Linked DNA regions of Homo sapiens: region 1 is linked to region 2. Evidence: fine-mapped expression QTL. A gene starts in region 2. The other region holds a variant in brackets. All regions are shown on one strand. Distances are between the middles of the regions. Region 1 holds the start of LINC02988 (long intergenic non-protein coding RNA 2988). Region 2 holds the start of C1orf56 (chromosome 1 open reading frame 56).

Region 1 (12,052 bases), 890 kb after region 2:
ACAGGGAGGTAGTAAGAAAGCAGAAAGAGAAAGGAACCCAGCGTAGAGAAGGGAGTGACGAAGTGGGGGGTGGGGGCAGTAGCTGAGCTTGAGGGTTGCAGAAGTGGGCTGGGACTGCTTGCCTGTGAGGTTTAGATAGAAGAGAGATTCTTAGAGACTCATTTCCTGGGAGAATGAGGCAAATTTATTACTGGCAGAGGGGTTGGGAGAGCGGCTGGGGAAGGAGGCGAGAGCTGTTTCCCCAGGGACAGAGCTCTAGGCTCAGAACCGCATAGTATGTGAGGACCAGGGCAGGAGTTAGAGAAATTTGCACCTTTCTTTTCTCCCTGGTAAACCTATGCTGTGGAGATAGAAGGAAATCAACTCATCAGCGTTCCAGGCCAACACCCCAGACATTCTTCCTAATGGAGGGAGCCGGGACTGCAGTTCCTTTATCCCTCCTCAGGCCCCTGGCTAACAACCTGATGGGGAAGGACAGGAAAAGTTGAGGAAAGTGTCACTGAAATGAGAATTAAGATTTCGTTCTTTACCTGCCTCTACCCCTCACCCCCTCTCAACTCTGTGTCCTGGGTTCCACCCCTTACCCCGTCTCCCCATCCTAGGGCCTCCGGAGGGCACTTCCCTTTGCTTCATCTGTGTAAGAAAAGAAGGGAGCAGAGCGGTTGGGAGTGGAAAGGGAGGGAGAATAAGTGCACCCTGAAAGTGTCTGGGGGCAGCTGTGTGCTGAGAAAGTTGCCCCACACAGCTACTGAGCCAGCCCATTTGCCACGCATCACAGTTACCGGGGGCACGGAAGGGAAATATTGCAGGCAGAGGGGCTAAAATGATGAAGTGAGGGAGGAGAAGCACTGGGAGGAAGGGAAATGAACGTAAGCACCTTCCCATCCTCCTGTCACAGTGCCCAGGTTCAATACAAATGCTTCAACAGAACTCATGCCAGCAGCCTACCACAAGGGTGCACCTTAAGCGATTTTTCTAGTGGGAAGCCTGGTTCCATGCTAAGCTCTAAAGTTCTTGAAGACCAGGGACCATGCTTTCATCCCTTCTGGCTCTCTCCTCTGAAGAGAGAGGTCCAGCACAGCCTGTGGCCTGGATCTAGCTAAGTGACAGTGACCCCACCCCGGTGGCCTCATTCACACAGTGCTCCTTCCAACTGAGCTAGCGGCTCACTGCCCAGAGTCAAACCAGTAACAGTAGCTGCAGTGGTCACTTTCTGACTGACAGGCATTTTCCATATTGTCCTCACCCATCCAATAGCTCTGCAGCTTGCAGATGAAAAAAACTGATACTCGGAAAGCATGTGCCTTGCCCAGAGCCTCATAATCAAGAAGTAACAGAGTTAGAATTTGAATCCAGATCCATCTGGTTTCAAAGCTGGGCTCATTTCACCACCCTAGGGCCTGGATGTTCCAGTAACTGCTGGAGAACTGGAAGCTGTTGGTTTTAGAGCCTGAAGCCCAGGAGCACAGTGCCCAGCTCCTCTCTTACTGTTGTGAGGTCCCCGATCTTTCTTTTCTGCTTCTTTCACCTGTCATTCTCCTCTCTAGTGTCTCCCTCCATCTTCTGGCTCCCCTGGGAGCCACAGATAATTGACATGTTGGGATACACATGTCATTTGTGCTTTTGTCTTTTTTCATTATGTGGGAGCAACAAGGAAGAAAAAAAGAAAAGGAAAAATGCTGGTAAAATACAAAGATAGAGACTTGTAAAAAGAAAGCATAATTCTACCTTAGACTTCAATACTTGTGACAATGGATGGCTCTGCTGACCATGCTTAGGGCTGTGGAGAGTGCAGCTATTTGAAGGACAGGAAGTCTGGAAGCCTGGGTTCTCACCTCATACCCCAAGAGACCATAGAATGACATGAAGGTGGCACTCTTGCACACTTTCCCTCACTCAACTGGGATACACATTCTTCAAGGAAGAGGCTAGGTAACTACAGTCTAGAGCTGGGGACAATCTCCATGACAGAGTGGCAAGGGACTAGAGAGAGCAAGAATTCCTCTGCCCTAGGGATGGTTTAACAGCAGTGATAAGGTCCAGAGAAGAGCTGTGAAGGAAAGAGATGATTTCTGGAAAGGGGACAGAGGCCCCCATTTTGCTTACATGGGTTGTAGGAGTGACGTTAGAGCAGAAGAATGCGGACTGAAGAATCTGTTTCTCCCACAGGTTTTTCCCCCGCTTCCTCCTATCCCATCTTCCTATAACATCGGGGCAGCGTCATGGCCAGGTCTACATGTAACTTGGCCCCGTTTCCTCCCCCTCCTCCCCTTACCTCTAGTGAAGCCCCGCTGCTCTTGGAGGATCAAGCAGCTAGCAAGGCACACTTCAATGTGGCTTTTAACCCCTCATTTACTTGATTCATGAGACTCTGTCCCCTTCTTTCCCAAAATCAAATTATTCCCTTCATAGCTCTTCTGGGGACCTCACCGTTACTAAACCTCATCTCACACACTTCCAAGGAAAGAGTGAACAGTGAGTTGTGTGGGACCTACCACAGACAAGAATGTTGGGAAGCCTGGCAACTTCAGAGGTGGCTGGGAGGGTGGTGGCGTGGGCATCCAGATGCTTTTCTAAAGTGGGGACTTGCTTAGTGATGGAAGAGGTTTGAGGAAGGAGAGGGGGAGGCTACAGGAAACCTCAGCATGGCTGAAAGAGGAACTTGGACAGATGTTTGGTTTTCCCCTTCATCCTACCCAGCTTGCATCACACACCAGTTTCATTCTTAGTTCAGTTCTTCTGTGGGGTCTGTCTCTAGTTCCCCTGTGCTAGGGCCCTGAATCAAATAATGAAACTAGTCTCATCCACTCAAGGTTGGATTTTTTTTTTTTTTTTGAGACGGAGTTTCGCTCTTGTTGCCCAGGCTGGAGTGCAATGGCACAATCTTGGCTTGCTGCAACCTCTGCCTCCCAGGTTCAAGTGATTCTCCTGCCTCAGCCTCCCGCATAGCTGGGATTACAGGCGCCCACCACCATGCCTGGCTAATTTTTTGTATTTTCGGTAGAGACTGGGTTTCATCATGTCGGTCAGGCTGGTCTCAAACTTCTGACCTCAGGTGATCCACCCGCCTTGGCCTCCCAAAGTGCTGGGATTACAGGCGTGAGCCACTGCGCCCGACAAGGGTGGATCTTTGAGTCAAGGTTGGGAAGGGTGTGGAAGATGAAGGGAAGAAACACCTCATGTAAGAAAATCCAGGCAGCTCGATCTCAATGAGAGACTGCTAGGAATGAGAAGCCAGTGTCTGGCTGGGGAGATTTTAATTCCACAAATCCTCCTCAGGGCTGGGATAAATTTCACTTCCATGTGCACGGACAGGTGACACTGGCCTCCACATCCCTACAACTAGAGTTGGGCAGCTGAAACTTCACCCTCAAACTGAAGGCCTGGGGTGGGACATAACAGAAAACATCCTCATCCCCCTCCCGCTCTAAGCTTAGAAGCCCACTGTATCCTTGGGAGCAGCAGTGGACTCCCTGTGCCGTCTTGGGGGCGGGCGGTGTGTGGAGTGGTCAGACTGTGTCTTTACCGTGCCTTCTCTCTCTCTGGCTGGGTAAAAACTTCCTGCTACTGCTGCGGGGTCACTTCCTCAAACCTGAGGGGCATACGAGGGGCATATGGAAAGTAGGTGGGGCAATAAGGGTTGTAGTGGGGTCAGGCATCAGCAAGAGCAATGAGTTCATTTTTGTTTTCTTTTTTTGATTGAGGTAAATAAAAAAGCTTTATCCAGCAACACGGAGATAAGAGTCTGTCCAACCCGACAAGTTCCAGACCCCACCCTGCCCTCACATCAGGCTCTTCCGGTACTGACTGTGCGGGGTGGTCTGTCTGAGGTGGGAGTCCGGGGTCTGCAGGTCCATCTGTCTGTACAGGTCTCTCAGCTCCCTGACCTCCTGCAGCACCCTCTTTGCCTGGCTCCAATTCGATGATGCCTCTCCCAGCAGCCGTTCCGTCTCCAGCAGCAGCTGCTCTGACTCAGAATCCGGCGGAGACCGAGGGGGGTCCTTGGCCTTTCGCTTCCCATCTCCCAGTCCCTGAACCTCTGCCAGAAGCTCCTGAGTCTCCTCCAGTTTCCTTGCTACCAGGTCCTGGATCCGGGACAGCTGCCCCGGGTTGGGGAGGGCAGGGGTTGGGGGTTCCTCAGCCCGCAGCTGGAGGGTGCGGGCAGAGGCAGCATCCCGCTGAGATAGGATCTCCTCCAGGGAGGCGCAGCGGCCTTTCTCTGTGGGCGTCAACTTCTTGGGTGCCTGGGGGGTGTAGGTGGCCCCTTTGTCTGTTTTTTCCCAAGGTCGGGAGAGACTGCTTGCCCGGTCTGCGGAGGGCTGGATGCGGTCTGAGTCCGCTCTCCGCCGGCTCCCTGCCAGCTGGGCCACAGACTTGTCCAGGTCAACCCGAAAGCTCTCAGCACAAGAGGTTGGTTCCTCAGGGGAAGGGTCTTCCTCTTGGATCAAGTCCAAGGTCAGCATCCCATCCGAGGTAGAGGTGGAAGCCTGTGGAGGAAGGGGGGAATGAGTGGGGAACCTGTCATCAGGAGGGATTTTCGGAATGACTGCCTAAAAGATGCAAGCTGTGGTCATTTTCCTCTACAAGCCTTCCTTGAATGAGAAGTACTTTTTTTTAGAGACAGAGTCTTGCTCTGTCACCCAGGCTGGAGTGCAGTGGCACGATTTGAGCTCACTGCAAGCTCCGCCTCCCGGGTTCACGCCATTCTCCTGCCTCAGCCTCCCGAGTAGCTGGGATTACATGCGTGCACCACCACGCCCAGCTCTTTTTTTTTGTATTTTTAGCAGAGGCAGGGTTTCACCATGTTGGCCATGGCTGGTCTCAAACTCCTGACCTCAAGTGATACACCGTCTCAGCCTCCCAAAGTACTGGGATTACAGGTGTGAGCCCCCCTGCCTGGCAAAGCCCTCTGCTCTTGACTGAACCCTCCTACTGAATGTGCTGTTTCTTATTCCTTTGATAGTGACTTGAATGTTTCTTCTTCTGTGATTTAGTTTGTTACTTGTTTCCTGTATTCTCCACTCTACCATAAGCTTCCTGAGGGGCGCCCTCTTCCTTGGTATTGTGGACTCTCAGCAATTAAACTGCATCTGATGCACACAGGATGCTCCCCATGGCACGACTGTCCTCCTCCATCTGCATCCTCTGAGTCCCACACTTCAGCCCCCTTGCCTTATAATAAAATTTGTTCTCTTATTTCCAGAATACTAAAAATGATGAGTATTCAATACCAAATATGTTGTTTTAGTCATTCCTCACAGCAGCCCTTCAAGGCAGGCATGATTACTGCCTCATTTTACAGTTGGAGACATGCAACTTCAGGGAACCACACAGGTAGCTGATTACAGTGAGGTTCCAACTCAGGTTCTAACTCCAAAGCCTGTGTTCTCTGCATTATACCTGCCTGCCTCTCTCTCTGAAGACTTAAGAGCTCAGAGGCATGAAAGAAACTAGCACGTTGTATGTTTCAGGAGTTCATTGTGATCCTTTCTCCTCCAAACACCCGCGGTACTACATGTTGTTACCCATCAAGACAGCCACCATACAGTAGCTAATTTTTCATTTTCCTGTGGGTATAACTCATTTTCTCCGAAAGAGGGTAACATTACTGGGAGCTGGGACTTTTGAACTCCTAATGGGCGCTGAATAAAACCTTTTGATTTAGATCTGGCAGAGGCATTGGGTGGAAGGACTTCCCTCGCCTTTGATCTTGGCATCAAGGAGGCCTCCCGCAAATGCCTCTGGTGGCATACAGTTCTGTCTGAGATGGACTGACACAGAATTGGCCCTTTGGCAATGTTTATTACAGTCTTACATACCACAGCCATTAGGTGTCCCCTTGTTGGGGGGCGGCGGGAGTGCTGGATTTTTGCCCTGTCTCGAGTGGGATGGGCAAGATAGCTGTCCTCCTCAACGGTGACCTGAAGAGATGTACTGTGAATCATGAGTGCTCTTCAGCGACTCGCTGTCCCAACCCAGCATCCCGAGGCCTGAACATGTGCCCACTCCATTCACTGCTTCTGAATGGGCAAGGGGATTTACTGGACACGAAGGGG[G/A]CTCTTTAAGCTGACCCAAGGCTGGCTCCCCCATCATGAAGCGGGGAAGAGGAGGTGTCAGATGAGACTTGGAGAGAAGGTAGAAAGAGATCAGGGCTTTTAAAAGGGTGGTAAAGAAGTAGAGCTGGTGGAGGAGCGAGTAAACGGGGCCTGCACAATCCTCCCCCTTCAGTGGGTCACAGCTGTTCCCTCTGCCCCAGCGTTCCTCCCTCTCCCCACAGTGAGCCCCCTGACCTCATCCAAGATACGGTTCTTGGCTCGGGTGATGGCAGAGTTGAGGGCATTGATCCACGATTCCTTCTCTTCTGGACTCACTGCCAGGAAGATCAGGTTGGGTGCCTGTGAGGGGAAGATTCCTGTTTCAGCCAGGGTTTTAGAGGTGGTGCCTCACCTTGACAATGAAGAAATAAGAGATTATAATCTCACTTTCTTAGACCTAGCTCCAGGAAGGAGAGATATTCTGCTTCCAGAGTCATCCATAACTTAAGGAAACCCAGCTTCTATTCCTGCAAAATGCATAGCTAGGAGGTTGTTTTAGAAATGACCAAGGAGGAGCTAAGAAGGATACTGAATATTAGTATGGTATTAGAGATAATTAGAGGAAGTCTGATGAAGGATAGGTATTAAAATACAAATCTTTCAATGTTTGAAGAAATAGAATGTGACAGGAATAACTTCCCTGGGTTCCCTCAGACAAGATGAATTAGATTCAGAACTTCAACCACCTATCAGGGTACAAGGACAGGGATTTTCTTCTAAGGGATGTAAATATGCACATGTGTGGATGTGTGTGTATAAGACAGAGAAAAATAAAGAGATATATAGAGAGATGATCTTTGTGGCTGAACAGGTTAAAGGGTGGCCTGCCTGGAAAGAAGGAAATGGCTACAATATTCTCAGGTGAAATGATAAAAGCCAGCAGGAGAGCAATTCAGGGAATCTGAACCAAGATTGCTGAGAGAGAAACTGAGGGGAAGGAGTTCTCCCCTGCCCCCTCCAACCCTGTCCATGTTCCAGCAGCCAAGGTGGCAGGAGAAACATACCGTGTTACCGGGCTGTTTGGAGTGGGCAAGAGTAAACTTGCTATGATTTTTCTTGCTCCTGCTCTTGGACTTCCGGAGCTCTTCACACTTCTCATAGTCACTCAGGTCAAATACCTCTTGAATATTTTTCTCATCTTTTACCTAGGGGAGGGTTGGGGTGAGGTGAGGAGGATAAAATTATTTAGCCCCTCCACCCAGACTGTTAGTTTAGATCATCTTGGGAAACAGAGGAAGCCTGAGGAGAGGGAGGCACGCCAGGAGAGGAGAGGGCCGTCTGCCCAAAGCCTACAAGGTCCTCACATCGAGGAGGACGCTAGGGCAGCTCCAAGTCTTGAATGTTAAGGTGTGTTTCTGTTTAAACCCCTTCTCTTCACTCTCCTTAGCCAGGCTGCCATTTCCAGAGTCCCACTATGCCTCTCTTCACCAACCGCCCCACTCTTTTCCTTAAGGACACAGCTTACATGTTCTAAAAAGGCTCACGTCCTTAAAGGGACATGGTAGATGGTTGATCCATTGCCCTCAGTAAGACAGACCTGTATGGCCCTTGATGGTCCACAGAAAGAAGATCAAGGCAGGGCCAGTTATCGGGGTGTCTGGAGGGAACGAGGGGCGGTCTCTGGCCTCCCCACTCACATGTGTGCAGTATAGCTCTCCCACCCCACCTCGCTTCCTTCTCTGGTATGTACAATTATAGAGACTCATCTTCCTTGTTCATTTCAGGAGCATCGCCACCACAGGACGGCAGCCCCGTGTTCAGTTTGCTGAATTTGTCCAGAGAAGCTGAAAACTACAATTACAGTTCCTACCCTTTCCTCCTCCCTCTAAGGTACTGTGACAATCCAAACTAACTCCTCCAGACCCCCTATCTCTAGGCAAGAATGCACTTAGACTCTCCCTGGGAGACTACACTTTAGACTTGGAAAAAAGTGACTTCTGTGACTTCTTGCCATTATTCCAGTTTGAGTGCCTGGGCCCCCTTTACTGCCAGGAAGCTCTTCCTCCTATCTAAACTTAGCCCTCCCTGCTATAGTCTCCGTCCCGCACTCTGGTTCCACCTTTAGCAGGTTTTAAGCAACATTTAGCTCTTAGCACTCCTGCTGAACGTCTCATCGAGGCCGCATTCCTAGTGACATTCTCCAACCCCAACTAGCCTTTTCTGAGCACTGCAAAGCAGCTCTAGGAACATTTCTTCGCAGGTTCATCTGAAACTGACCACAATGTTTTCTCTTTTCCCCTAAGGTGGTGTTCCTACAACTCTGGGACTCTGAAGCAGTGGCTTATGGATTTGTTTTGGCTAGCAAGGACCAAAGTTACAGAGAGGAGACTTAGTTACAAGTCCAGACCGTGCAGTCTGTCCACCCTCCGTGGCTTGAGCCCAGGGTTGGAACACCTCAGGAAAAACCTGGTCACGTTTTCCTGGAATGAGAATTAAAAGCACCAGCACTTGTCTCATTAAAACTAAACAAACAGATAAAAGTAGCCTCACGTCTTCCTTGGATGACATCTACCCACCCTGACTGAAATTATTTTCCAAAACAGTCCCCAACTTCCCAAGTTCTGAAATAGGACTCGTGTGCATGGAGGTGAACTCATCTATCCTCCTGGTTCCTGGAAACCTGGAAGTGGGGAAGTGGTTCTCCCTTCCATTACCCAGACCATCTACAGTCTTGTATCTGCCCATCCTTCTGAACTGCTGCTGGACCTGGAGGCTGATGACAGATGAGGACAGATGTCAACATGGCCCCATTCAGGTGAGTGACGCCTCATACATCTACCTCCATTTGTTTCAGCAAGGCTTGGCTCCTCCAGGGCCTCCCACTTTCCAGGGTTCCCTGGCTTTGGGCTGGAAAGTGGCCAGAGGCCTTGAATGATTACGGGTGGAAGTAGGACAAGGTGCTGGCAAGGGGTGTCCAAGAGCAATTCCCAGAAACACGGGACAGGGATACAAGATGATGCATCATCCCTCCTCTCCCCCTCCTTCTCCAGAGCTGAGACTATCAGCAGAGCCCAGAAACCGTGGAGAGGAAAGTGTTGGGTGTGTGAATGTAGCCAGGGGAAGAGAGTTAACTTACTATGTTTTCCTTAGGGGAAGGGAAGGAAAGGGAGTTATTCTACCTTGCATACAGACTGATTAGGAGCTCTGGGGAGCAGGAGACACTGATAGAGGTTAGCCCTTGGTGGAGAGGGTGGGAGATGGGGTGAGGCAAGCAGTAGGACAAGTATATTCCAGTGCCTGGGAAGATGGACAAAGCCAAGCAGCCTTGTTCTCCACCATATTGTTTTTTTTTTCCCCACATATCTAATTCCCAGAGTCTCATTTATAACTACCCATCTTCCAAATTAACCCTTCCTTTCCCCTGATTCTTCGTCCTTGACTATAGAAAGGGATTTTTCCCACGCCTGTCCAAAGAGTTGCCCCGAATCCAATTTCCTCCACCATGAGGTCTTCCTAAGGTCTAGCTTCTGTTCTTACACATCAGCCTGTGATCATAAGGTGCTCCAGCCCTCTTTGAGAGAGGATGCCCTTTGAGAAGGAAGAAAATGATTACTATCGAACACAGAAGAAATTCTACGGCAGAGGTGGTTGTGGGAGACCCTGCCTTTAAGAGAGGAAATAACAAAAGAGACTGGTGAAAATTCTGGGAGATAGGGTTAGAAATTTTCTTGCATTAACAGTAAATGATATAGATTATACTCTGCCTTAAAAAAAAAAATCTTGGTCAGGGACTGTGGCTCACGCCTATAATCCCAGAATTTCAGGAGGTTGAGGCAGGAGGATCACTTGAAGCCAGGAATTTGAGACCAGCCTGGGAAACATAGTGAGACCCCATGTCTACAAAAAATAAAAAAAATTAGCTGGGTGTGGTGGTGCATGCCTGTAGTCCCAGCTACTCCGGAGGCTGAGGTGGGAGGATTGCTTAAGCCCGGGAGGTCAAGGCAGCAGTGAGCTACGATTGTGACACTGCACTCCAGCGTGGGCGACAGAGTGAGACCCTGTCTCTAAAAAACAAAACAAAACAGAACACCGTGTCTTGATTCTATTGGCCCTGGAGCTTTTCACAAGTGGGCAAAATAAAGCCCAGAGTACTCTGTCAATTTCACTTTTTAACCAGGCCCACTGTAGCATTGAAACTGGCTCTAAAAAAGCACAGTATCAATATGCCTAGTCCCTCTTTCCTGTGCCCTTCCCAGCAGGAGACAGCTGGCTCCATGACCAGTCAGATGGTCCTGACTCATAGGACACCAGATATCCTAGGCTGAGGTCATTCCATCCTTTCCTCTGTCTCTGTACCTAAAAGCAAGGATCAACTACGCTTTTGCCCCCAGACTCTGCTCTTTGGGCAAATACAAACAAGCAATGGATGTCTTATTCCTCTTACCCTTTCACTATTATGTTTTTCTCTTTGATGTGTAGGAAGTTCTCCCTGATTCGTAACTAGAGTTTCCTGCAATTAAGAAGTTCGGGGAAGACAGGAGATACACTTTGACACTTGTTTTTTTTTTTTTTTTTTTTTTTTAATTTAGAAAGCCAGAAAATTGTGGAGAAAACTTTCTGGAGGATTTGTGATTGGGCAGAGGTAACTCTTAAAAATAAATCCTCCTGGCCAGGCACGGTTGGCTCACACCTGTAATCCCAGCACTTTGGGAGGCTGAGGCGGGTGGTTCACTTGAGGCCAGGAGTTTTGAGAGCAGCCTGGTCAACAACGCGAAACACTGTCTCTACAAAAAATACAAAAACTAGCCAGACATGGTGGCACCCACCTGTAGTCCCAGCTACTCCAAGGATGAGGTGGGAGGATCACTTGAGCCTGGGAGGTGGAAGCTGAAGTGAGCTGTGATTGAGCCACTGCATTCCTGCCTGGATGACAGACCAAGAAAAGTGCCCTCACCTCACTCCTAAGACTTTCCATCACCAACTTGCTAGTTTTGTGTAAACAGCTAGGTTTCAATACCCTTAAGAGGGATCTCTTTGGCTGTGGCACAGCTTAGTTCTTCCCTAGATGCCTCAGTAGATGTTCTTTTAGATGAGTACTTTGTCTCAGGGTGTGTGTGTGTATGTTTCAATACCATAAAAGGTTTTATTTACCTAAATATAATCTACTGAATAAGGATGTCTACTGCAGAAAGCAGAAGAGGTTAGAACTCAGGGAGGACTTCCCAGTTAGCCCTGGGTGAGGGAACACAGAATACCTCCCGTGAGGGCGGGAGGAAGGGCCACTCTAACCGGTACACAGGACAGTCTTCCAGGCTATACTGACTGCCTTTGGACAGTCACAGAGGCAGGGAATGGAATGACTTCTAACCACTGTAGGGGCAATTCTGATTTCTCCACATTAGTACACGTTATTGATCCCAAGACTTAGGGAAAAAAGGGAGATGGGTCTGGATTCAATTATCATAGCTCAGGTCTTGACACAGTGTAGACTGTGGTTTTCATGGTTAACTACACAGCCAAAGCTATCCAAAGACATACAGGGGTTCTTAACTCCATTTCTCTCCCTTCTGATACAAATGGAGGGGTGGGCAGGAAGTGGGTAGAAAATGGGTTCCTTGCCTTTTTTAAATGGGGTGGGGGTGGGGAACAGAGAGCATACTGGTTAGGGACACTGGCTTCAACGAAAATAACTGCCACTCACACACCCGAGGTCACAGGGGCCTGACGGCGGGGTGCGTGTTTTCTGTGATTCAGGGCGGATGCGCCACGGACAGGACCTGTGCACGCTCCTGCCACAGACAGGAAAGGGGAGGCTGGCTGGGTTAAGGTGGGGGGACAGGAAGGGGTGGCGAATAGGCTAAACTGTTTCAGCAGAAATAGAAAAGAAATCCTATATGCAGGAGGCCAGGTTAGGGTGGGAGGCAGCAAGGGACACTTAGAACTTCTGGGGCATCTTGGGAGGGGCTTATCGTTGTTAGAAAGGTATTTGCAAACAAAAAAACACTGAGTAAGCGGCC
Region 2 (11,608 bases):
GACTTCTGATCATTGAGGATGGTGAGATAAATAGGTTGAAAACAATCATCTGTGAGTTTAGGAGTCTTAAGATCCTCACAGCACGGGAGCAGGGAGAGGCTCTAGAACAAGGTTTCACAACCGAGATGCCTTTGACATTTTGGGCTGAAGTGTTCTTTGTAAGGAAAACCTGTTTCCTATTTTGTGCATTACAGGATATTTAGCAGCAACCCTGGCCCACTCTAGTTATGACAACCAAAAATGTCTCTATACATTGCCAGATTTCTCCTAGGGGGCAAAATCGCCTCCATTTGAGAACCACAACTCTAAAGTCAAGATATTTTTCTCTGAAGTGATTTCTGCTTGGCACGCTACCCTCATCATCTTACTCATCTTAAGCCCGAGCCATGGATCAACTAGGAGCCCATATAAATGAGGCTCAGTAGGGCTGCACATAATCTCCAAACAATTCTTTATTCAGTGTTTTGCTTGTGTTTGCATGTTGCTATGATGGACAGGTCCCCCTCCTCCATTCTTGCCCTCTGGAGAAGTGGTTCCTGCAGTGTAGAGATATGAACAGGGTATGGTAGGATTGGGGAAAGGGGAGAGAGAAGCAGTAGATACACTCCTTATCCTCCCCAAATTTTAAGCTCTATTTCTGTGCCCTAGTCCTAGACACACATTAGACTCAGGGAGTTTTGTCTGAAGACCAGGTCCCACTGCCCCCTGGCTGAAGAGTCTGCTTTAAATGGGAAAACAACGTAGGAGCAGGGGTTTTTAGGCACTTTCAGTATTCTCAGGTGTTCTTCGTTCTGGCCCTTCCAGGGTAATTAGGAAGGCAGAACAAGACAGATGAGCTCCTGCCTGCTCTGAGACAAGAAGGGTGGGGTCTCATTAGCTTTGCAACAGGAAACATCCTGTTTTATGGTAGTGGGGTCAGGAATGTAGGAACTGGTATCCATTCTGCCAATTCCACCACCCATTCAGTTTGCTTATCCCTACAGAACAGTGACTGAGGTTCTTTTTTTTTTTTTTTTTTTTTTTTTTTCAAATTTCCATGTATTTTCTGCCATTTTTCAGGGTCTAAGATTGGTCATACATTCCCAATTTACTCTCAGTTCCAGTCAAGCTGGTTGCTCTGAAAGTAACCCAGCTTGTTGCTCTAAAATACCTCAGTAGCCTGAGTGTTATACTAGAGATCTAAAGGGTTAACAGGATAGGGTGGAAAGGTTAGAGACTCCTAGAAATCTCTGGTCACCGTGATCTTCGGCCTCATTCTAATACCTGTTCTTTGGACAGTCTTTTTCCTTTGGTGCTCTCTTGCCTTTAGCTACCTTCTCTAATATGTATGCTACCATCACTAATAAAGTGATGGGAATGGGTTTGAGAGTCGTAATTTATATTAAAAAGTTGTTGGACTTTTAAATACATTTTTTCAAATAAAAAATTAAGCAAAATAGTTGCACAGTAATCATTGCAGGTGTGTGTTGGATTAAAGGATGGATATAGCTAATGAAGATAACTCCTCGAAAGTGGCTGAGATGGAATTTTGTACCAACATTGCCCTTTTGAGGAGAGAGGGCCAAGCATGAAGGCAAGAAGACCACTGTCATCTTTCAAGGGCTCAACTCCTTGTTCTTCCTACTCCCTTTTCTTAGCGTTTATTTGAGATTTTTCAAGCCTGTAAAAGAAGTACTTGTTTTAAAACAATGTTGGAAATGAGGAAAATGAGCAATATCAACATTTTATCCTGAGGGACAGGGAGTAGAAAACAAGCCAGAGGCTGCTAGTTACATAGTTCAGTCTTAGGGATGAAGGGATTTATGTCTCTCCTCCCTCAGGTACCTCTGTAAAGAAACACAAGACCAAACAATGTGTTTTCCAGTTTTGTTTTTCTGTACTAAAAATATCTAGTGGGTGCTAGGATTGAAAGGGCAAGAGAGGTTGAGATACTGACATCTCCTCATGTGGATGAAGTGGCCATTACCTCTGGTTTCTGTCTATCTGCGTAAGAAAAAAAAATAGAGAAAAAGGGAAATTACAACCACATCTATATTCTTTTCCCTTCCTTGCTTCATCTCCCCCTCCCACAAACCCATATTCCCTCAACCCTACTGCCCACCCCTTACTTATTTTTGTATGCAATAATGGTATTGGACACACAAGGAGAAAAACAGAAACAAGCAAAATGACCAAGTGTAAGCTTTATTACCTTTCCCTCCTCAAAGTCCTATCATCCGTATCAATTGAGACTACCTTATCAAGTCAATCAGAACCTTTGCTAATTCTGGGAAAAGCAGAGGACTATCCTTCCTTGTCCTGGAAGGACAGTACTCCCAAATGGTAGTGGTGAAGAGAGTGGGCACTGGTGTCAAACCTGGTTTAAATCTCGTGGCTCTGCCACTTACTAGCTTTGTAAACCTCAGTTTCTTCATCTGAAAAGCAGGGATAATAATACCTCATAGGATGTGAGGATCGATTCAGGTAAAGTGCACATAGTAAGACCTCAAATTTTGGCACTTGTTGCTGTTAAGCTGTATTAGGTCAAAACTATTAATTGATTAAGATCCTTCATATCTGTTAATTATCTGTGCATCAAAAAGACTTTATGGGCCGGGCACAGTGGCTCATGTCTGTAATCCCAGAATTCTGGAAGGCCAAGGTGGGCAGATCCTTGAGCTCAGGAGTTGGAGACCAGCCTGGGCAACATAGCGAGATCTTGTTAGCCAGGCATGGTGGTGCACGTCTGTAGTCCCAGCTATTCAGCAGGCTAAGGTGGGAGGATTGCTTGAGCCCAGAAGATGGAGGGTGCAGTGAGTTGTGACTGCGCCACCACACTCCAGCCTGAGTGATGAGAGACCCTGTCTCGAAAAAAAAGTCTTATGGTCAGGGGCACAGTAGCTCATGCCTGTAATCCCAGCACTTTGGAAGGCTGAGGCAGGAGAATTGCTTGAGCCCAGGAGTTTAAGACCAGCCTGGGCAACATAGCGAGATCTTGTCTGTGAAAAAAACAGAGAATTTCCAAGACCAGGCATGGTGGCTCATGCCTATAATCCCAGCACTTTGGGAGGCCGAGGCGGGTGGATCACTTGAGGTCAGGAGTTCTAGACCAGCCTGGCCAACATGGTAAAATGCTGTCTCTTCTAAAAAAAAAAAAAAAATTAGCCGGGCATGGTGGTGGGTGCCTGTAATCCCAGCTACTCAAGAGGCTGAGGCAGGAGAATTGTTTGAACCTGGGAGGCAGAGGTTGCAGTGAGCCAGGATCACGCCATTGCACTCCAGCCTCGGCAATAAGAGTGAAACTCTTGTCTTGAAAAAAAAAAATATTTCCAATCTTAACTATTTGGTCAATAATCACCTAATGAGCAGTAAGACATTTTACCTAATGACCAACCAGTAGTTGCTCAATAAATAATAGGTGGAATCAATGGCTAACAATGTGAATAACCAATGCATGTTATGAATCAATAACCAGGTAAGTCAGTAACAGTTCATGTAAGCAACACTGGCTGGCTTAGCAACTGGGTTTTAGATACCAGGACTTTTCAGATCCGTCAACAAAGACCCTGGCTCATCACCAAACACTTACTGGTTGCATCTCTGTGAACACTGAAGAGAGGCTATTCCAAATATCCTCCAGGCCAATCCTGACCCGTTTCCAAAAAGCCAGGGCTGGGCAGGGGCTGGCGGGTGGCAGGCTGGGACTGCTTCTGAGGTGGATGGTGGGGAAGGGGGTAGTGGTGGTCCTGGTACTGGTGGTGCTCTGAGAGGCACAGTTGGTGTCAGTACAGAGACTTGTGTCCAGGGGGCACTCTTCCCGAAGTCGGTTGCAGGGACATTGTTGATAGGTGCAAGGCTTGTGCTCCGTGCGGAGCTGGCTCAGCGCCCCAACTCGAAGGCGCCCGGAAAGGCCGTGCAGCTTCCCAGACCGGCTCCGGCTCATGGTGCCCGACTTGCAGTGGCAGTGCCACGGGCCCCAGGGCATCAGCACCAGCCGCAGATCCTCAGGAGATGGCATGGCTGTGGGTGAGGGTGACGGCCACCGGCTCGGGGTAGACCCAGGTGTGGACCACTGGCTCAGGGTGGCCTGCGAGCCTGGCAGGTCCTCAGTAGACCTCCCGGGGGAGCGCGGCAGGCTTGAAGTCAGCCTGATTTCAGGCTCCTGACTATTGGCTATAAACCTCGTGCTGGAACTCCCCGCTGTATTGGGAGTCGCACTGGGAAGCTCTCTGCTGGTGCTATCCTTTCCGGCATTAATCACAACCCCCTCTTCTGAAGACCCATCCTCCTCGTTAATGGCGGACGACCGGCTAAAGCCGGTGGACACCGTGGCGGCCAAGAGCTCGGCAGCCGCTGGTCCAGCCAGGCGGTCGGCGTCGGCCATGGCATCATTCTCGTCCTCTAGGATTATCCTTGTCTTCCGGGGAAGACCAGTCCGGGCGGTGCTCCGGTAGCTGCGGGTCATGGGGCCCCCAAAGCGTAAACTGACCCGCTGCATTTCGGTCGGAGTCTGGGTCAGGCCTTGGGCCCCCGCCGCCCGGGGACCCAGATTCAGCAGCAGGACCCACAGCAGCGCGCCGGCGGCGGGGACCATGGGGCTGGGCTCTTGGGGTTGGGAGGGTGGCCAGTGAGGCAAGCCCTGCCTCCTACCTTCGCTCCCTCCCTTCCGCTGTAGACCCACCGGGTCGTTTGAACCGAGGCCCGCGGGGAAGGGGGTGGGGTTCGACGCGCAGGCGCGCTCGCGCGGGCCGCGCGGGGTGCTCCTAAGGAACCTCTGCGGCAAGAACTCTGCCAGAACCGAAGGTTTGGGATGCAAGGGGTGGTGAAAGAGTCGTTCACTTCTTTGGAGCAGAGCTTAAATGTCTCATCGCAGTTTATTAGCCTCTACAGTTCTAAATTTACTAAAGAGGGCAAAAATACAGGTTTTGAAAGCACTCCTTCCCAGGCTCACAGGCAGCAGACATGACTTAGAAGGAAAAAGGGCATACAGCGGTTCTTCAAGATTTAATGAGCTGACTCTCCTGGCTCCCAGCAGGCAGGCTGGCTGTCAGGTAAGCCTCTTCCATCCAAGGTGGAAGGATCACAGTCCCTCCAGTTAGACAGGAGGAAAATTAGGACCCAAAAAGATGAAGTTATTTGCCCAAGGTTCTACAGCTAAAGTAGGATTAAAACCCAGAGCTCTGGCCGAGCGCGGTGGCTCACACCTGTAATCTCGGCACTTTGGGAGGCCGAGGCGGGCAGATCACGAGGTCAAGAGATCGAGACCATCCTGGCCAACATGGTGAAACCCCGTCTCTACTAAAAATACAAAACAATTAGCTGGGCGTGGTGGCGTGCGCCGGTAGTCTCAGCTACTCGCTGAGGCTGAGGCAGAAGAATGGCTTGAACCGGGAGGCGGAGGTTGCAGTGAGCCGAGATCGCACCACTGCACTCCAGCCTGGCGACAGAGCGAGACTCCGTCTCAAAAAACAAAAAACAAAAAAACCCAGAGCTCTGCATATCCCATACAAAATGACCCTACATTCAGCCTTCCGTCCCAGCAACTGGAATGAAAGTCACCCAGCAGATCAGTTTCCCAGCCTCAAAGCCCTGCTGAAAGTAGGGTCATGCAAAGGACAAAATCCCACTGAGAAGTGAAGATCCGGTGGTACTGAGGTTGGGGATAAGATGATTTACAAAACAGTTCAGATGTTTCAGGGATTCAGGTGTAGGCAGATCACTAACTGGTTCTAAGGCCTTTTATCCAGTCCTGTGCTATGTCCCTCCTGAGCCATGGAGATCCCGGTCCAGCCTAGGAGAGGGAGAGGGGGAGGAGAGAAGTGGTTCAGGGGGTAGGACTTGGGTTTTATTTTCTGGTTTGGGGAGAGAAGCCAGGTGAATTGGAAGAGCTAGATGATTGGGTTGAGTCATCATTTAGCACTTTTGCTCCCTAACACCCTCTCCCCCACTGGATATCATCTGTTCACTGCCAACACATCTCTTCCTAATTTCTAGGGCCAGTCTGAATCTCCTCTGCACTGTGATTATTCCTTTATTCCTTATTGCCTCTGCACTTATATGTATAGGTTTTTTTTTTTTTTCATTTATTCTTGTTGGATGCAGTAGTGTCCTTCATTTCTTCTCTGGGTGTGTGCAGTTTCCCCATATACATTAAAGCACCCGAAAACAGGGCCCTCTAGCTTTTCGTTCTTTTGTATGTCCCCCAAGGCATTAAAAAAGTAGAGATTGGCTTTACACATCCCACCCCAAGGCTTTATTCTTAAGTGTGAAACTCACTGTCTGACAGCTTCAGGGATGTGGACTTGATCCAGGGATATGAGTTGGGCCAGCTCCCCCAGGCTGTCCAGAAAACGGATTTTTCGTGTGAATTTGGAACTGAAAAGAGAGAATAAATCAACTGTGTTTTGTATTGGGAGAAGGGTTCCCAAAAATCCTTGCAAAGAAAAATGTAGAAGTAGAGTGGTTAAGGCTAGAAAGAATCAAGGTGGAGAAAGATCTTAATCTTGATTTTGAAAATGGGGGGAAGGAGAAAGGAGTCCTTGTTCCTAGAACTAGTACCTGATGAAGGGCCGAAGCAGTGCCAGAAATGCTTTCACATACCATGTAGCATGGACAACCACCAGGGCTCGCAGGTTTTTCCGTAGCCTGAAAAACAACATGAGATCATCCTATTTCTTCTTCCACCTTTATGTGTGAAGATCACGTGGAACTGTTTTCTGTACTGTAACTTCCTTCATTCACTTCTCTAGTTTCTAGATTTATCTGGTACTTGGGTCTAATCCCCATTCCGTCAGCTGTAATCTCAGCTCCACCCATCTTATTTAGCCCTCCATGATCCTCATTTTTAAAAAAACTCTCAAGATTTTTTTTTTTTTTTTTTTTTGAGACGGAGTCTCACTCTGTCGCCTGGGCTGGAGTGTAGTGGCACTATCTCAGCTCCCTGTAAGCTCTGCTTCCCGGGTTCATGCCATTCTCCTGCCTCAGCCTCCTGAGTAGCTGGGACTACAGGCGCCCGCCACCGTGCCCGGCTAATTTTTTGTATTTTTAGTAGAGACGGGGTTTCACCATGGTCTCGATCTCCTGACCTCGTGATCTGCCCGCCTCGGCCTCCCAAAGTGCTGGGATTACAGGTGTGAGCCATCGCGCCCGGATTTTTTTTTTTTTTTTTTTTTTTTGAGATGGAATCTCACTCTGTCGCCAGGCTGGAGTCAGTGGCTCGATCTCGGCTCACTGCAACCCTCCACCTCCCGGGTTCAAGTGATTCTCCTGCCTCAGCCTCCCGAGTAGCTGGGATTATAGGCACATGCCACCATGCCCAGCTAATTTTTGTATTTTTTTAGTAGAGATAATGACTTGTCACCATGTTGGCCAGGCTGGTCTTGAACTCCTGACCTTGTGATCCGCCCACCTCGGCCTTCCAAAGTGCTGGGATTACAGACGTGAGCCACCGCGCCCGACCACCTGGTCTTTTTCTGCTCCATTTCCATCTTGTGCTCTACCCTCGCGTAAGTTCCTTTTGCATGCTTCTACATCGCTCCATGACCAAGATTACTTATAAAACTCTAGGTGGAAGAAGACCAGCAAGGACGAAAAAAGGAAAGGGGGCAAGAAGAGAAATGTGAGCAAATGGAGATGGGGGAACCAAAAGGGGAAAAAAAAAAAACCTGAGAAGGAAAAGAAGACACAGGGCCAGGCACAGTGGCTCACACCTGTAATCCCAGCACTTTGGGAGGCCAAAGCAGGCAGATCACCTGAGCTCAGGAGTTCAAGACTGGCCTGAGAAACATGGCAAAACCCTGTCTCTAACAACAACAACAAAAATACAAAAATTAGCTAGGCATGGTGGTGGCGCATGCCTGTACTCCCAGCTACTTGGAAGGCTGAGGTGGGAGGATGGCTTGAGCCAGGGAGGGAGAGGCTGCAGCGAGCCAAGATCTTACCACTGCACTGCAGCCTGGTGACAGAGAAGACACATAGGTCAGTGATGAAGGCAGAGAAGAAGATAATGGAGGTGTGGAAAGGGAAATAAATGGCAAGACTGAGAGAAGAGTGCTTTCTGTGTGCCAGGCAATATGCCACACTAATTTACTCGATTTTCACAAATACCCAGTGGCAAAAGTATAACTATTGCCATTTTACAGATAAAGAAGCTGAAGTGGCCGGGTGCAGTGGCTCATGCCTATAATCTCAGCATTTTGGGAGGTGGAGGCAGGCAGATCACTTGAGCTCAGGAGTTTGAGACCAGCCTGGGCAAAATGGTGAAACTCCATCTCTACAAAAAATACAAAAGTTAGCTGGGCATGGTGGCCCATGCCTGTAGTCCCAGCTACTTGGGAGGCTGAGGTGGGAGGATCGCTTGAGCCTGGCAGGCAGAGGTGGCAGTGAGCCGAGATCGTGCCACTGCACTCCAGTCTGGATGACACAGCCAGATCCTGTCTCAAAAAAAACAAAAAAACAAAAAAACTGAAGCTGAAGCCCAGAGAGGTTAAGTGACTTGTCCAAAGCCATACAGCTAGTAAACAGTAATGTGGTAACAGCAGGATTTGAAGCTAGATTTCCTTGACTCCAAGAGAAGACAGAAGACAAAAGAGCTGGGAAAGGAACGTAAAAGGACAAAGAAAATAGGAAAAGGACTAAATGGAAGAAGAAATAATAGAAAGATGGGGAAAAAAAGATGAGATAGAGAGTTGTAGCCCTCTCATCCCAGGTCTCACCGCCGATCCAGGGTACGGTAACACTGACGTATCCAGCTTAGAGGTGGAACTTGGGCCCTGCTTGTGCCTCCACTCAAATGAACAAGCAGGTAATTTTCAGCTACTAGCAGCTCCAGAGTTCCCACCATATACCTGGGGGGATGAAATTGCAGGGAAGGTATGTGTTAGGGGCTTCAGAGAGTGAGAGGAACATTACTGTAGACTCTCCCATCAGCTACTGATCTTTGAAGGAGTTCTTTTTTACTTTTCCCTCCCTAACACTGCCCTGTAGCCCTTCAGGCCTTCCACCTCACCTAAACAAGTGTTCCATGACATAGGTGTAGTTGGGGATGCTGCTTCTGGGTAGATAACAGGAAGCAAAAAGGATGACAGCATTGAGGCCATCACCGTGGTAACCTGGAGAGTGTAAGGGGAAAATTCATTTGGTCAACAAATATGTATTGACAGATAGTATATCTGTTTAAGTTGAGGGACTCTGAGGGTCTCTGGAAGTTCCAGGATAGATTTTGGATCCAATGACTGAGTCTCCAGCTTAGGCATTTTATTAAGAAGCCATAGCTCTTAACACCTGCATTATGCTAGCCATTACCTCCATGAGACAGGACTTTCTTATAGGGCTCAATGACAGTCATGTCTACGCGCTGCTCCCGTGGTCCCATTCGGAACACCCTCCAGTGATGTCCATCTTCTCCAGTCACATCCCACATACAACCTCGGCCCAGCCTTTCAGCTGTCTCACTGGTGCCCAGACCCTCTGCCCGGGGTAGTTCATCTAAAAGAGAGGGATGGGGAAGGATCAACAAGGCAGATTTCCTACCTTCAGTTTTTTGTAACTTCCTCAGATTCCTAGTTTGTTACTCTAATCTGTCATTACTCAATTTTTTCCTTGATTCTTTTTTTTTTTCCTTTTTTTTGAGACAGAGTCTCACTCTGTCACCCAGGCTGGAGTGCAGTGGTGGGATCTCAGCTCACTGCAACCTCCACTTCCTGGGCTCAAGCGATTCTCTAGCTTCAGGCTCCCATGTAGCTGGAACTACAGGCATGCACCACCATGCCCAGCTAATTTTTGTATTTTTTGTAGAAACAGGGTTTTGCCGTGTTGCCTAGGCTGGTCTTGAACTCCTGAGTTCAAAGCAATCAGTCCACCTTGGCCTCCCAAAATGCTGGGATTAGAGGCATGAGCTACCACACCTAGCCTCTAACCCAGGCTTCTGTTTTGACTCTAGCCGTATCCCTAAATGCCTAGAGTGTACATCTTCACTTCGTGTCTGCTTGTCATCAACAAATCACCAGATTCAAAAGGGAACTCAAGGTTGTGCTCAATGGCTCGTGCCTGTAATCCCAGCACTTTGGGAGGCCAAGGCAGGAAGATTGCTTGAAGCCAGGAGTTTGAGACCAGCCTGGGCAACAAAGTGAGACCTCATCTTTACAAAAAATTTAAAAAATAATAAAATTACAAATTACAAAACAATAACAACAACAACAAAAAAATGGAACTCAAAATCATTCTTTTCTGCTTTGGGAGGCCAAGGTGGGAAGATCACTCATGCCCAGGAGTTCAAGGCTGCAGTGAACTATGATCATACCACTGCACTCTAGCCTGGGTGACAGAGTGAGACTTTGTCTCTAAAAAAATAATAATAATACAGCCTGGGCAACAAGAGTGAGACTCTGTCTCAAAAATAATAATAATAATAATAAATAAATTATTCTTCTTATTCTCCCTCATATTTCCTATTTCCTTTTTTTTTCTGAGATGGAGTCTTGCTCTGTTGCCCAGGCTGGAGTGCAGTGGTGCGATCTTGGCTCACTGCAACCTCCGCCTCCCAGGTTCAAGTGATTCTCCTGCCTCAGCCTCCCGAGTAGCTGGTACTACAGGTGCACGCCCCCATGTGTGGCGAATTTTTTGTATTTTTAGTAGAGACGAGGTTTTGCCATGTTGGCCAGGCTTGTCTCAAACTCCTGACCTCAGGTGATCTACCTGCCTTGGCATCCCAAAGTGCTAGGATTACAGGCATGAGCCACCGTGCCCAGCCATATTTCCTGTATTGATGAATGACTGAATCCATGTAGCTGCCTGAATGAGAAAATTATATTATTATTATTGTTGTTGTTGTTGTTTTCTTTTAGAGACAGGGACTCACTCTGCTATCCAAGCTGGAGTACAGTGGCTCGACCTTTGCTCACTGCAGCTTTGACCTCCTGGGCTCAAGTGATACTCCCACCCCAGCTTCCCAAGTAGCTAGGGCTATGGGTACACATCAGCATGCCTGGCTAGTGAGAAAACTGCATGTCATGTGAAACTCTTTCTTCTCTATCAGCCCTGAAATGAACTGGACTCCAGATTGTGATCCATCTATCTCTATGATATTCTTTCATCATCCTTTCCACTACTGCTATCCTGGTTTGGGTTCTTAGTATTTCTCACCTGGCCTTGGTACTAGCCTCCTTACTGCTTTCCCTGCCTCTAGTCTGTTTTTTTCCAATAGACCCTCTATACCACTGCTAGAGCAAGCTTTCCTTTCTTCTCTACCTTTTTTTTTGAGACAGGGTCTCACTCTGTCTTCCAGGCTGGAGTGGAGTGGCATGATCTTGGCTCACTACAACCTCTACTTCCCAGGCTCAGGTGATCCTCCCACCTCAGCCTCCCAAGTAGCTGGGACTACAGGTCTGTGCCACAAAGCCCAGCCAATTTAAAAAAAATTTTTTTTGTAGAAATAGGGTTTCACTTTGTTGCCCAGGCTGGTCCCAACTCCTGGGCTCAGATGATCTGCCCTCCTCAGCCTCCCAAAGTGTTGGGATTACAGGAATGAGCCACTGCACCCAGCCTCTTTAGCTTTTTATTCAAATGATAATATATTATACCCACCATTCTGCATGATCTTTCCATAGCAATAGAAAGAGCTGCTTCTTCT

Evidence for each region. PIP is the estimated chance that this variant, and not a neighbour inherited with it, causes the effect.
Region 1: its variant is fine-mapped to the expression of C1orf56 in sun-exposed skin (GTEx, PIP 0.97).

What each region holds. Positions count from the first base shown.
Region 1 is chr1:150,151,254-150,163,305 of GRCh38, reverse strand. PLEKHO1 (pleckstrin homology domain containing O1) reads right to left here. Exons shown (of 6, transcript NM_016274.6): 3 at 7,100-7,240; 4 at 6,291-6,395; 5 at 5,820-5,921; 6 at 3,241-4,487. The coding sequence ends at 3,783. It overlaps LINC02988 (long intergenic non-protein coding RNA 2988), which reads right to left and starts at 2,578. Exons shown (of 4, transcript NR_135098.1): 1 at 2,496-2,578. RefSeq lists enhancers at 1-160, 2,509-2,818, 3,949-4,450 and silencers at 1,171-1,240, 1,829-1,898, 3,599-3,648. The variant G/A (reference allele first, on the strand shown) is at 6,057.
Region 2 is chr1:151,040,813-151,052,420 of GRCh38, reverse strand. It overlaps C1orf56 (chromosome 1 open reading frame 56), which reads right to left and starts at 4,670. Exons shown (of 2, transcript NM_017860.5): 1 at 3,569-4,670; 2 at 1,001-1,983. The coding sequence starts at 4,573. The coding sequence ends at 1,963. BNIPL (BCL2 interacting protein like) reads right to left here. Exons shown (of 10, transcript NM_138278.4): 5 at 9,283-9,465; 6 at 8,987-9,089; 7 at 8,694-8,825; 8 at 6,538-6,624; 9 at 6,256-6,354; 10 at 4,701-5,770. The coding sequence ends at 5,734. CDC42SE1 (CDC42 small effector 1) reads left to right here. Exons shown (of 5, transcript NM_020239.4): 5 at 1-1,436. RefSeq lists enhancers at 3,773-4,012, 4,293-4,342.